2 linked regions of the Homo sapiens genome follow. The protein of the gene in region 1 interacts with the protein of each later gene in a biochemical or structural test. Each region holds a gene or a part of one and is shown on either strand. Other genes may lie near its edges.

What was found. Proteins that work in one complex are often made in the same cells at the same time.
Region 2: the proteins of HOMER1 (region 1) and DBNL form a complex in vitro, tested with the Homo sapiens proteins (one study listed by BioGRID).

Annotation. Positions count from the first base shown.
Region 1 is NC_000005.10:79,372,132-79,378,168, forward strand, and holds the end of HOMER1 (homer protein homolog 1), read right to left. Parts: intron 4,067-6,037; coding exon 3,878-4,066; 3' UTR 505-3,877; downstream 1-504. UniProt on the Homo sapiens protein: Postsynaptic density scaffolding protein. Binds and cross-links cytoplasmic regions of GRM1, GRM5, ITPR1, DNM3, RYR1, RYR2, SHANK1 and SHANK3.
Region 2 is NC_000007.14:44,047,679-44,054,716, forward strand, and holds part of DBNL (drebrin-like protein), read left to right. Parts: intron 1-2,546; coding exon 2,547-2,602; intron 2,603-4,087; exon of another isoform or gene 4,088-4,151; coding exon 4,152-4,264; intron 4,265-5,188; coding exon 5,189-5,263; intron 5,264-7,038. UniProt on the Homo sapiens protein: Adapter protein that binds F-actin and DNM1, and thereby plays a role in receptor-mediated endocytosis.

The DNA.
Region 1 (6,037 bases):
AAATTTTTTTTTTTTTCTATTTAGTGTACTAAGCAGAAACCACCAGGCAGTGTAGTGCTGACTGAGTTTTTGAGTTTTCTGGGATATGATTTTTAGCTATTTTACTATGTAATATATAAACAAAAAATGCTAAGTACCCACTACTTTAATTCAGTAACTTTGCTTGTATTTGCGTGACATCTATATATCAGTTTCTCATGAAGAAAAACTATCATAAAAATTTTAAGGTAAAATTTAACACGAATATTAGGAAAAAACACACTTTCGCAATTTGGAGTAAGGTGAATGACACATCCTTTCCTTTTCTAGTAATTTCTAAATTTAGAAATTGAGAAATTTTCTAACAGTGTCAATCTCAACTACTTCTTACCTGAAAGGTTTCTTAAGATTTTGTATAAATTAATTTACTTCATGCTATACATTTAGGAGGCAAAAATTCAATGAAAATCATTTCATGACTTCAAGCACAGAATTTCAGGATGTCAAAATCATTTGATATCAAATAAATGCAATGGTTAAAACAACAATAAGAATCCACTGCCATCAAACAAACTTTCCCCGACCTGCCTCCCATTCCAGTACTGACAAAATCAGGACCACAAGGAGATAAATGACCGAAGTGTATATGCTTCAGTTAAATAAAAACATGGGAGACTGTAGCCCACATGTTAAAGAATACATTTAATTTTAACAGGGCAAATAAACTAGTTTTTAAAGGTAGTGGTGGTGTTGGCTTAATTTTGAGTGTTCCTTTTATTTCCACCTGAAAAAAAAAGTGAGCTTTTCCTCTAACTGCTTCCCAACAGTTCAATGACAGCAGAACATCAAATCTATGATGGTGCTGGAGATCTTCTATAGAGACAAGGAGAGATGCAACTTCGTGAGCATGTTTTAGTCTGCAGAAAGAAAGTGGAAAAGAGAAAGAGAGAGAGAGGAGAACAAAAACTAATTTTCCAGGCAGGGGAATACTTATAAAACCTTTTATGTCAAAGTTAGGATTTCACAACATAACACACTAATGCAAAATCCAGTAGCACCTGAAAGATTTAAGTAAATGCTGTCATCATTTAAATGCTTTTAAATATCTGTAAAAGACTGGAGGAAAAAAAGATAAAGTACATTCTCCAGAGAACAAATGTATTTCAAAATAAAAACTGTATTTTTGCTTTTCTTTTTTTTTTTCAATTTTTGTTTTTGTACAAGATTCAATAGTTATCACATATTAACTTATACACAATGGGATCAACCTCCTCCTCCATGTCGCTTCAAGTCCACATGTTCAGGCTATAGTCCCCAACATTATTTTCTGAGAAATATATTACCACAGTTTGATTTAAATATAGATACAGTATATAATACTTGTCTCTGGGAAAAATCAAATTTTAATATGCAAATGTTTATATAATACAGAAATGGAAAAAACTACAGTAGGCACACAACCTAATTATGACTTGTGGATGATGATTTCTACATACTCTCCTACTGTAAATGAATAGTTAAAAGTCTTAAGAAGATTTTATTTATATGTGCACTTGTGTCCACCTTATCCCATATACTGTACATGTCTATTGACAATCTGGGAATTTAAAGGTGCAGCCCTCAAGAGATTGTTAAATCACTAAAAAAGGAAACAATTAGGCTCTATTGGACAAGAAAAACACTCACAAAATTTCCAATTTTAAATTTCATTATCAGTAGGAAAGTATTAAAAATAATTTTCTGTATATACATATGGGTATATGTATATATTGAATCACACATATGTCCCACATTATCAATACAATTCAAATGGAGACATTTTGGTGAGTTTTTTCATTAAATGATCACTATGTCAAAATTTAAAAATATTTTATTACATCATTAAAATAATTCACTTGCCATTTCAACAGCTTACACTGTTTTTTAAATTTTTTTAACTCTTCATACTAAACTCCCTGATCCCTAGTGTTAAATCTCCTATTTAAATTAAAACTTGGTGCTCTTTGTTACTCAGAAACTGATGGATAAAAACACATTTACTTCAAAATTCCATCAATCAAATACATTTTGTTACCTGATTTATCAGAGAAATATCTCAGCTCTGAGCATGTGTATCTAAATTATTCTCCCTATAATATATAGGTGAGGAAAATATCCTAAAATAGATGGAGGTAACGTACATGATGTTACAGCACATATAATACATGATTGTTATAAATTTTTCAGAGACACCTGAAAACTCACTTAAGAAACTAACTTCAGAAACAAACCATTTATTTTTCACTCTAATGTAAATTAATATGTATGTATTTACGTACATACACATACATAAAAAACAAAATTGTCTAGTATTGAGTAGCTGTTTATGAGTGAAAAAATGGTTACAAATTGGTTAATTAGCTTAATTTTGTACTTAACAATTCGATCATTTTGGGGTACAAACAAGAAGTCAGTGCATTTATAGACTCCATAGAGTCAGTTACTCAAGCATACACTTTAAAAAAGAACCCTCCTCAACATCACAGGCATTGTACAGCAAGAATATATGTACTCTGATGCAATTCCTACTTTATAAGCAGACTAGACAGCACTTGGCTTACTTTTAAAATAGCTTCGTAAAAGAAATATATCATATAAAGAAATGCATGTTTGCTAAAAGTCTTTTAAAATTACATCAAAACAACATTAAAACCTGTTCACTGAGAAGAGCCTATTGAATTTAATTCCTGTTTTGAAATACCTAGTTAACAATTCAGAATATTGCCTTGTGAGGTTTGAATCAAGATGTGATTGATGTGTAGAGCCAGATAGAGTACATGACTCCATCTCTATCTGCCACGATCACAATTTAGATAGAGTCCTCTGATCAGCTGTTTGATGTAAATGGACCCCCTTTAAAATAGCTATACACCTTAAAATTATCTATAATAAACAGTTCCCCAATAACCATTATTATTCGTAAATTGAAATGCATTGATCATTCAGAAAAGATTTCTTGCAAAATATATAAATAAATGTAACTGCATATTCTGTAAATATACTTAACATTGCTAGACCAGCCTGTCAATGACGGGCTGCTGTATTTCAGTACTGTGTGTCAAATTTATTAGAAACTTAAAAAGAAAAATTTCTGAGGGACTCAGCTGCCTTCGTTAGTTGGCTTTAAAATGTGTAATAAAATGGGAGACAATATCTTCTCATAAATACATGGAATCAATATGGAAAAGTAAACTATACAACAGACAAGATTAGAGAACACCAGAGTGTACCAGAGTAGTCACCAGAGTGAAATATCTTCCAGCACAAAAAAGGGAAGAACTCTATACACCCAGTTATAGTATATTTCAATTAAAGATACAGCTCTCTCTCACTCCTGGCAAGAATTAATTGGTAATGGCACTGCTTCTCAGCAGTGCAAAAATATCCTGAGAAATTATTCAGATTACAACAAAAGACAGGCTTTCATCACTAAGTTTTTGCACAAAACACAGCTCTAGATATCGTAAATAAATTAATTTAAAAAGCAGATAATCTTCACTGTGTTGAACACAAAAAGGGGATGTGACCTAGACATTGTTAATTCTCCCATTGGCTAATATCAGGAAAAAAGATTGCATTAAGTGTCTATTTATAACTTTCTAGTTAACTATGGCCAATAATATACATGGAGGTAATTTGTAGTTCAAGTTTTTCATCTTTTTTCCCCAACTAGCTACAAGCTGGATTCTAAAATTTACAGTGAAATATACAATTCCAATTTCAAAAGATCCTCCTCCTGGAGGAGTGATATTCAATTTTTTTTTTTTTTTTTTTGTGCAATCTTGATGCAGAGCCTAAACAGTCCTATGAAGAGAGACAGTGTATCTTTTAATTAATTGGCACTGAAATTTCACTTTCCTTAGCTGCATTCTAGTAGCTTGGCCAAGTTATCTCGTAATTCTGTTAGTTCAAATATCTTTCCATCCAGAATTTCTAAGAGTGTCTTCAGGTTATTGCGAAAAGCTTCTTGTTCATTCTGACTTTTCTCCAGACGTTGCTCTAAGTCAGACAGTTGTCCCTCCAGGTCTTTGTTCCGAATTTCTACTTCCTTCAGAAACAAAAGTGTAACATGTATATATGTCAATTCATCACTTAGAAAACAATACAACTCTCTGTTATTACCAATATTGCGGTAATCAATGCAGTTTGACTGTCAGGATGAGCTGCAGAATCTTAATTTAGCACAATTTAAGGAGATTTTAGACTTGGCCATCCCAGAGAGCAATACGATTTTAATGACTGGCTTGGTTATCAATCTATCTAACCACTCAACGAAAATCTACTGACTCATTACTTTGTGCCAGGCAACACTCTAGGTACTTCAAATACCAAGACAGGCTTGAAGACCTATTTATGGATCACTTAGATCTCATTTTTATTGCTGTCCACCTATTTCTCCTAATGCATAATTATTAGCAATCACAGGTGAAAGCAGGCAGAGAAAGAAAAAGAAATTAACTTTTTCTGTTTACTGGCAACTCTAGAGAAAGATTTAGACAAGAAAGTAACTCTCTAAAATGTGATTTTAGGATCCTCTGAATATGTTATTCTTTGCTTTGCCTCAATATCAAATAAATGTATATGTAGAGAGTATCACTCAATTGCTAGAAACTGTAGTGAAGATACATAATAACTGTACATATTAGAGAATTATAAGTTAACAGTTCCAATACATTGCAAACCAAGGGAAAAAAATGACAAAAGGAAATCAAATGTTCATGACAACAAAAAAAACACTAAATGATTTGTTTTTGACAGAATAAACTCTGGCACACTTAAAAATTATTTAGCAGTTATTACTGCTTTTGTTTTTTTGTTGTTGTTTCTTTTCTTTGAGACACAGTCTCACTCTGTCCCCCAGGATGGAGTGCAATGGTGCAATCTTGGCTCACTGCAACCTCCGCCTCCCAGGTTCAAGCCATTCTCCTGCCTCAGCCTCCCAAGTAGCTGGGATTACAGGCACACGCCACCACACCTGGCTAATTTTTATATTTTTAGTAGAGACGGGGTTTCACCATGTTGGCCAGGCCAGTCTTGAACTCTTGACCTCCAGTGATCCACCCGCCTCGGCCTCCAAATGTGCTAGGATTACAGGCGTGAGCCACCCCGCCTGGCCTATTACTGCTTTTAAAATTGTCTCTAAATGTGACAAATATAATAAAGTGAGTCTAAAAAAATAAAATGACATAAATCAAGCTAATGATTTCATTTTGGTTAAAAAAATCAGATTGAGAAAAATGGGAGAAAGCCAACTATTACACTTTAAATAAGCAATTCAGATAAGCAATGAATTGAAAGTTGTTATATATCCGTTCTGGAAAGCTCACTTTTACATTTGAGAGAAACTAAGTGACTGACACAATTTACATTAAGATATATAAACTATATGGGACAACGAAAATATCTTGATGTTAGTTACACAACATGATAGCCTCAGAAAATGAGATGTTTCAAAATGTTAATACATCCTTTAAATGTTAATCTCTAAAGGAATTCTATCAAGTCTAAAGGACAGTGGAAATTTTAAAAAAATTAGATCACTGAAAGACAATCTGGTAAATGTTAAATGAAAAGAACAGAATATAAAGTAGCTCACTGAAACTGGCAAAAATTCGTATGCATGAGGACAAACACTAGGAATTAATGTAGAAATAGGAAATAAAAAATAGTTCTGGTGTTGAAATTACAGACACTTTTTTCCAAAAATTTATTCTTCTCTCAAGTTGGATAAAGAATGAAAAAAAAATTAAGAACTAAATTTTTTTCACAATGTAAAAATTAAACTTTCAAGAAAAATAATTAGGGCAAGGCTCACGCCTTTAATCCCAGAACTCTGGGAGGCTGAATCACCTGAGGTCAGGAGGTCGAGACCAGCCTGGCCAACATGGCGAATCCCTTCGTCTCTACTAAAAATATAAAAATTAGCCAGGCGTGGTGGCAGGCACCTGTAATCTCAGCTACTCGGGAGACTGAGGCAGGAGAATGACTTGAACCGGGAGGCAGAGGTTGTGGTGAGCCG
Region 2 (7,038 bases), on another chromosome or scaffold:
ATTATAAGATGCTTGACACTCCATATGCCTTGCTGTTCAGAGGCCAGTGCACCATGTTTTTTCATGTTGATTTGAAACTTCCTTCGCCCTTCTTTCAAAAGGCCTCTGAACTGGGAATGAGCCTCTGCGCTGGGAACATTCTTAAAGGTGGCCTGGGGTAGAGAGGGATCAAGTCAGAGGGATAGGTGGCAGGCATTGAGCTTGGCTCTTATTATATTAGCTGCTGAGTCCCTTTTTTTTTTTTTTTTTTTTTTTGAGACAAGAGTCTTGCTCTGTCGCCCAGGCTGGAGTGAAGTGGCACGATCTTGGCTCACTGCAACCTCTGCCTCCCAGGTTCAAGTGATTTTCCTGCCTCAGCGTCCCAAGTAGCTGGGATTACAGGCACCCACCACCACACCCAGCTAATTTTGTATTTTTAGTAGAGACGGGGTTTCCCATGTTGGCCAGGCTGGTCTCAAACTCCTAACCTCAGGTGATCCACCCGCCTTGGCCTCCCAAAGTGCTGGGATTACCGGCATGAGCCATCGCAGCTGGTTGAGTCCCTTCTTGCAAGAGCTGGGTTGAGCTGCCATCTTCTGTTACCTGCTGCTTGTGCCAGCTTGCTATCTTCTGGGAGCCAGGGCTTTGTGGCCATCAAGAGGAATGGGCTTCTTTCCTCCAGGGAGTTCCCCCCAGCTCATGCTGGCAGTGTGCCACCTCCCAAATCTTTCTCTTGTTTTTCTGTGTTCTTTTCTCTAGTTCCTTTTCTCTGAGTGTTTCTCATTCAGTGTTTCTCTCCTGTATTCTGTCTCCCCTCCTGGTAAGGAGTGCCTTTTCCCGGAGGCCTGTCTCCTCCCTACCAACCAGATCCACTGGGCCTGGGTCTAATTTCTTCCATTTTTCTGAGGCATAAGTATCTCTGCCCAGTGGCACTGGCAAAGCCCTGGGGAAGCCAAGTTGAAGCTGATTTGGTTCCTGTCCGACTGTTTATCCCTGGAGCTTCTGTCTGGCCTGCCTCAGCAGGCCTGTGCTTTAGAGCCTGGGGAGATGACACACACTGGACTGGGTTTTGCCTTTGACTTATAGTCCAGTGGGTCAGTGCCTCCAGCCCATGTCCAGCAGCCCTGCTGGGGATGTTCAGTTGCTGCAAGGTTCATGCTATTAGCAAGCCAGAATGAATCTTTACCAGAGTTTTGTTTTTGTTTTTGTTTTTAAGAGTTGGGGTTTCACTCTGTTGTTTGGGCTGGAGTACAATGGCATCATCATGGCTCACTGTAGCCTCGACCTCCCAGGCTTAAGCAATCCTCCCACCTCAGCCTCCCGAGTAGTTGGGACTACGGGCATATGCCACCACGCCTGGCTGATTTTTGTATTTTTGGTAGAGACAGGGTCCCACCATGTTGCCCAGGCTGGTCTCAAACTCCTGGGCTCAAGCGACCCTCCTGCCTCAGCCTCCCAAAGTCCTGGGATTACAGACACGAGCCACCCACCTGGCCCAGAGTTCTGTTCTTTTTTTTGAGATGGAGTCTCACTCTGTTGCCCAGGCTGGAGTGCAGTGGCGCGATCTTGGCTCACTGCAAGCCCCGCCTCCCGGGTTCATGCCATTCTCCTGCCTCAACCTCCTGAGTAGCTGGGACTACAGGTGCCTGCTGCCACGCCCAGCTGATTTTTTGTATTTTTAGTAGAGATGGGATTTCACCGTGTTAGCCAGAATGGTCTCGATCTCCTGACCTCGTGATCCACATCTGCCCGCCTCGGCCTCCCAGAGTGCTGGGATTACAGGCGTGAGCCACTGCGCCCAGCCCAAAGTTCTTATGAATAATTAATCTTTCAGGAAAAGAAAGCCATGGCCCCATGTCACCCATGGAGAGATAAGGCTCTGCTAGATAGAAAACTTGCTCATGGGTACCTGTCCGTGAGGGGCTTGGCAGGTTCATGGCTTTAACTGTGTGATTTCATGTCGTGTCATTCCTTTGTGGTTTCTGATAAACACAACCTGTGGTAGTCTGTGTTTACCAAAGAGTCTCAAGCCTGGAAGGACCTGCTGCCCTACCCACCAGGCTTCACTGGAGCCAGGGCAGACGTGCACAGGAGTGGTGGGCAGCCTTCCAAGGGGCCCAGTGTGTGTATTTCTCCGACTTGCTTCTCCTTTTGGGTGCTCTGGGTTCAGGAATATGTAGATATGTTTTGTCTCTTCAAATCCATATACCTAGTGGCCAGGTGAGTATTTGACACATGAATGTATAGCAGTCATTGGGAAACTCCACAGCTCATGTTTTCCTCATAGTAGATGTGTGCTCCCATCTCCATGGCTTTGTCCCTCACAACCCCCACCCCATGGTAAGTCAGGCCAGTGTCCTCCCAGCTGCAGAGCTGAGAAGGCTGCACAGTTGCCTACTGAGAACCTGCCTAGTGGGTCAGAGCAAAGTGAGAACGGGCCTGTGCCCACCCACAGTGTTACTGTCAGCCCAAGCTCTTTGGGATGTAGTGGAAAGTCATGGTGGATACGGTGAGGAGAGATGGAACCCAAGGTGCTGGCTACAGAGCTCACTTGTGTTTCGTTTCAGGGCTCTCTTTACCTATGAAGGCAACAGCAATGACATCCGCGTGGCTGGCACAGGGGGTGAGTATGACTCCAAATGGACTCAGGGACACCAGGAGGTAGGAGGGTGACGACGAGGGGTCAGCGCACTCAGCTGTCTTGGTCCACTGAGCCACATGGGGCTTCCAGTGCTCACTGGCCACTTCTGGCAGGCCTTAGGTTTCAGATATGTGTAAGTGAAAACATTCCTCCTTGGTTCTCCTTCCCTCTGGGTGCAGGGGAGTGCTTTCTCTTTGTCTACTTGGGGAGAGCTGAGAGGGAAACAGGCCTCTCCAGCTTGTGGGCAGCCTGCGTTGGGAGCTGCGGTGGGAAGCTCACCAGTCCCAGAACTGGTGCTGGTGGAAAGAAAGTCCACAGACATATCTTCTTCTCCCTTTGTCCTGCCCTGGTCTTGTGCCGAGTGCTTGCAGGGGCCCCATCCTCACTGGGAGAGGCAGTATCACTGCAGATAGTCACGGGGGAGGCTCTGGAGGTCTCTACAGGAAGGACAGGCTCTTGGCCAGCACAGAGCAGAGGTTGTCAGGGTAGGCTTCGTCAGAGTGTGACCTGTGGGCCCCTCAGCTGACACCCGTGACTGCTCCTCCTCCAGAAGTTGCCTGACCCCTCCCTCTGTCCTGAGCTGGACATGGCTTCATTGTTCAATGAACACTCGGAGTGGTTCTCCACGGTTTGATGTCTGTTGTTGGTAGAAAGCCCCTTCCTTTCACAATCTTTCTGGGAGGTGTCCCCTTTCTAGAAGGATTGCCATTGAACAGTAGACATGTGGTGTGGCAGGTGACTGGGAGTTGCAGAGATCAACAACTTGAGAGTTTCCTGTCATCCCCAGTGGCACAGGACAGGGCTCTGCCACAAATGCAACAATTTGCTGTCCCCAGAGTGGGGCTCATGACTGCCTCCACTCATACGGAGCCCTGTAGATGAAATACCTGATCAGCTCTTCCTCCTTATAACCTGGAAAAGTTTGTGAGGGCTAAGCCTCAGTGTCAGGGAGAATTGTTTAGAGCTGCCCACTCCTGTGCTCCCCCTGTCCCCATCACCCTCTCTTCTGGAGTCTGAGGACTGAGCCAGTTACGCCACTGCAGGATGTTCAATCTGGTCTGGCCGTCTGGGTGGCCCTGGAACTTGAGCAGACACAGGTGCAGGCAGTGGTGACTCTACAGGCCCTGCTATTCCGGGCCCTTTTGCAACGTTGTGGCAACAATAAAATTTTGACGTAGCCATCCTCCATTTGGAAGTCTGGTGGCTGGTTTGCCGTGGAAATGACCCTGTTTTTATTTCCAGAATTACCTCTGGGTTTAGAGAAGTGGTTTTTAAACGAGTGTGGGTAAAAAAAATTACCTGAGGTACTTGTCAGAATCGCAGACTTCTAGGTCCCACCCAGCTCTCATCAATCAGTTTAGTGAGGGTGGTGCCCAGGACTCTGATTTTAAACATACCCCTAGAAAGATTCTGATACAGGTAGAGGTGAGAAGCCCTGGTTTAGAAGCAGCTCGGCCTCCCTTCATGGTGGGACCAGGGCCAGCAGGGAATGTCAGGGCCACCCCTGACCTTCACTGTGACTCTGCTGCAGAGGGTGGCCTGGAGGAGATGGTGGAGGAGCTCAACAGCGGGAAGGTGATGTACGCCTTCTGCAGAGTGAAGGACCCCAACTCTGGACTGCCCAAATTTGTCCTCATCAACTGGGTATGTGGAGCCTGTTTCATCTAGGTGTGACCCAGGAAACCCCATTGTCTTCTTTCCTGTTTTGACTTGACTTCAGGAACAAAGTGTTTTACTGGCATGACTTAGTAGATCAATAGAACAGCTCTGAGCTGGTGAATGAGCAGAATAGTTGACAGATTCATTGTGGCCCAAAGAATAACTGTGGCTTTGCTATGCAGAATTCACCTTCCAAGCCTAGAGTTCTTCCTGCAAAATGGATTAAAAGCAGTCACAGGGAGTCCTTGCTCCGTGCTCTTGAGGGTGGTTGTTCTGATGGAGTAGAGAGCCTGAGGGAGTGTTTAGGAGCCTGGGAGTACAGGGACAGGGCCTCCTTGATCCCTTGGTGGGGATCAAGAAAACTCTTGAAGGCTGGGTGGGGTGGCTCACACCTGTCATCCTAGAACTTTGGGAGGCCGAGGTGGGTGGACTGCCTGAGCTCAGGAGTTTGAGACCAGCCTGGGCAACATGGTGAAACCCCATCTCTACTAAAATACAAAAAATTAGCTGGGCATGGCAGCGTGCACCTGTAGTCCCAGCTACTCAGGAGGCTGAGGCAAGAGAATTGCTTGAACCCAGGAGGCAGAAGTTGCAGTGAGCCAAGATTGCGCCACTGTACTCCAGCCTGGGCCACAGAGCAAGACTCCATCTCCAAAAAAAAAAAAAAAAAGAAAATTCATGAAATGCCCCCACAGCGAAAGCCGGTAGCCATCCTGCCCAGGGAGAATCCATGAGCCCCTTGGAGGCATGGGAACTTACCTCACCCATGTGATGCAGTCAGAAGAATAGGTTCTGCTTTGGGGGTTGCAGTTTTCTCTTTTCTGGGACACAGGGTAGATGTTGGGTCCCCAGGGAAGGGAAGTGGCTTTGGGGGAGGCCTGGGTCAACCTGGGCATCCTTGTGTTGCAGACAGGCGAGGGCGTGAACGATGTGCGGAAGGGAGCCTGTGCCAGCCACGTCAGCACCATGGCCAGCTTCCTGAAGGTAAGGCCAGGTGAGGCCCGCTTCACTGGGAACAGGCCTCACAGGCTTGAGGTCTCGCAGGTTCCTGGGTGCGAGCAAGTGGGAATCAGAACTGGAGTTGGGAGTGTGCTCATAGCTAATGCTCTCTGCCTGCCTTTGAGGGCATGACCAGAGGCTGCTTCACTCTCGGTCAGTGAGTGCATGGGAGGTCAGGATGTTGCCAGGGCCACCTACAGGCCTGCCTCAGTGGGGCAGGATAAAGGACTATGCTGGAGCTGGTGCCGTGAGAAGGGTGGGCCCTGGTTCTGTTTTGTTTTATGATCCCTCTAAACAGTTTAGTAATACCGTCAGGATTTGGAGGAAGGGGAGAGTGCCCACCATCTTAGCACGCATGTGCCCTTTTGATGCATTCCTTTCCAGCCCCCTCTACATGGAGTTATGTCAGTCCTATAATAGAACCTTTTTAAATTTTAAAAACTATTTGTAACAAAAGCATTTGTTGGTCACTTGTCAGGTAACTTTTTGCATTTCTCTGGCAAAGGAGACTCAGAATTTTGATTTCTCGTTCTGCCAACATTTCTTCAGCTATACCTCAGTTTCCATCTAGGAGCTGATAAGAGAATTCCCAGCTTATCGATATACAGGTTTGAGTATCCTTTATCTGAAATGCTTAGGACCAGAAATGTTTTGGATTTTTTCAGATTTGGGAATGTTTTCAGTTCAGCATCCAAAATCCGAAATTCTCCAGAATCTGAATTTTTTTTTTTTTTTTTTGAGACTGAGTCTCGCTCCGTTGCCCAGGCTGGAGTGCAGTGGCGTGATCTTGGCTCACTGCAAGCTCCGCCTCCCGGGTTCACACCATTCTTCTGCCTCAGCCTCCCGATTAGCTGGGACTGCAGGCACCCGCCACCACGCCCAGCTAATTTTTTGTATTTTTAGTAGAGACGGGGTTTCACTGTGTTAGCCAGGATGGTCTCGATCTCCTGACCTCGTGATTTGCCCGCCTTGGCCTCCCAAAGTGCTAGGATTACAGGCGTGAACCACCACGCCCAGCCCAGAATCTGAGATTTTTTGAGTGCTGACATAATGCTTAAAGGAAATGTTCATTGGAGCAGTTCAGATTTTGGAATTTTAGGTAAGGGATGCTCAACCTGTATAGCAACAGTGAATGACGTCATGGGTCTGGCTTCTTATGAAGAAATCATTGGCTTACTTTTTGTAGAAAACATGCATGGCATTCTTTTATCAGAGTTTTTTTTAATTGTTTTGTTTTTTGTTTGTTTGTTTGTTTTGAGACAGTCTCACTCTGTCACCCAGGCTGGAACGCAGTGGCACGATCTCGGCTCACTGCAACCTCTGCCTCCCAGGTTCAAGTGATTTTCCTGCCTCAGCCTCCTGAGTAGTTGGGATTACAGGTGCCTGCCACCATGCCCGGCTAAGTTTTCTATTTTTAGTAGAGATGGTGTTTCCCTGTGTTGGCCAGGCTGGTCTGGAATCCCTGAGCTCAAGTGATCTGCCCTCTTCAGCTTCCCAAAGTGCTGGGATTACAGGCGAGAGCCACCGCACCTGGCCCAGAGTTTTTATAAATTGATATATAATAGTTGTACATATTTTTTGCATACATGTCATATTTTGATACCTGTATACAATGTATACGATGAATCAGGGTAATTAGCATGTTCATCACCTCAAACATTTATCTTTTCTTTGTGTTGGGAACATTACAATTTTTCTCTTCTAGCTAATTTGAAATACACAAAATTATTGTTAACTATAATTTCCCTTCTGTACTATTG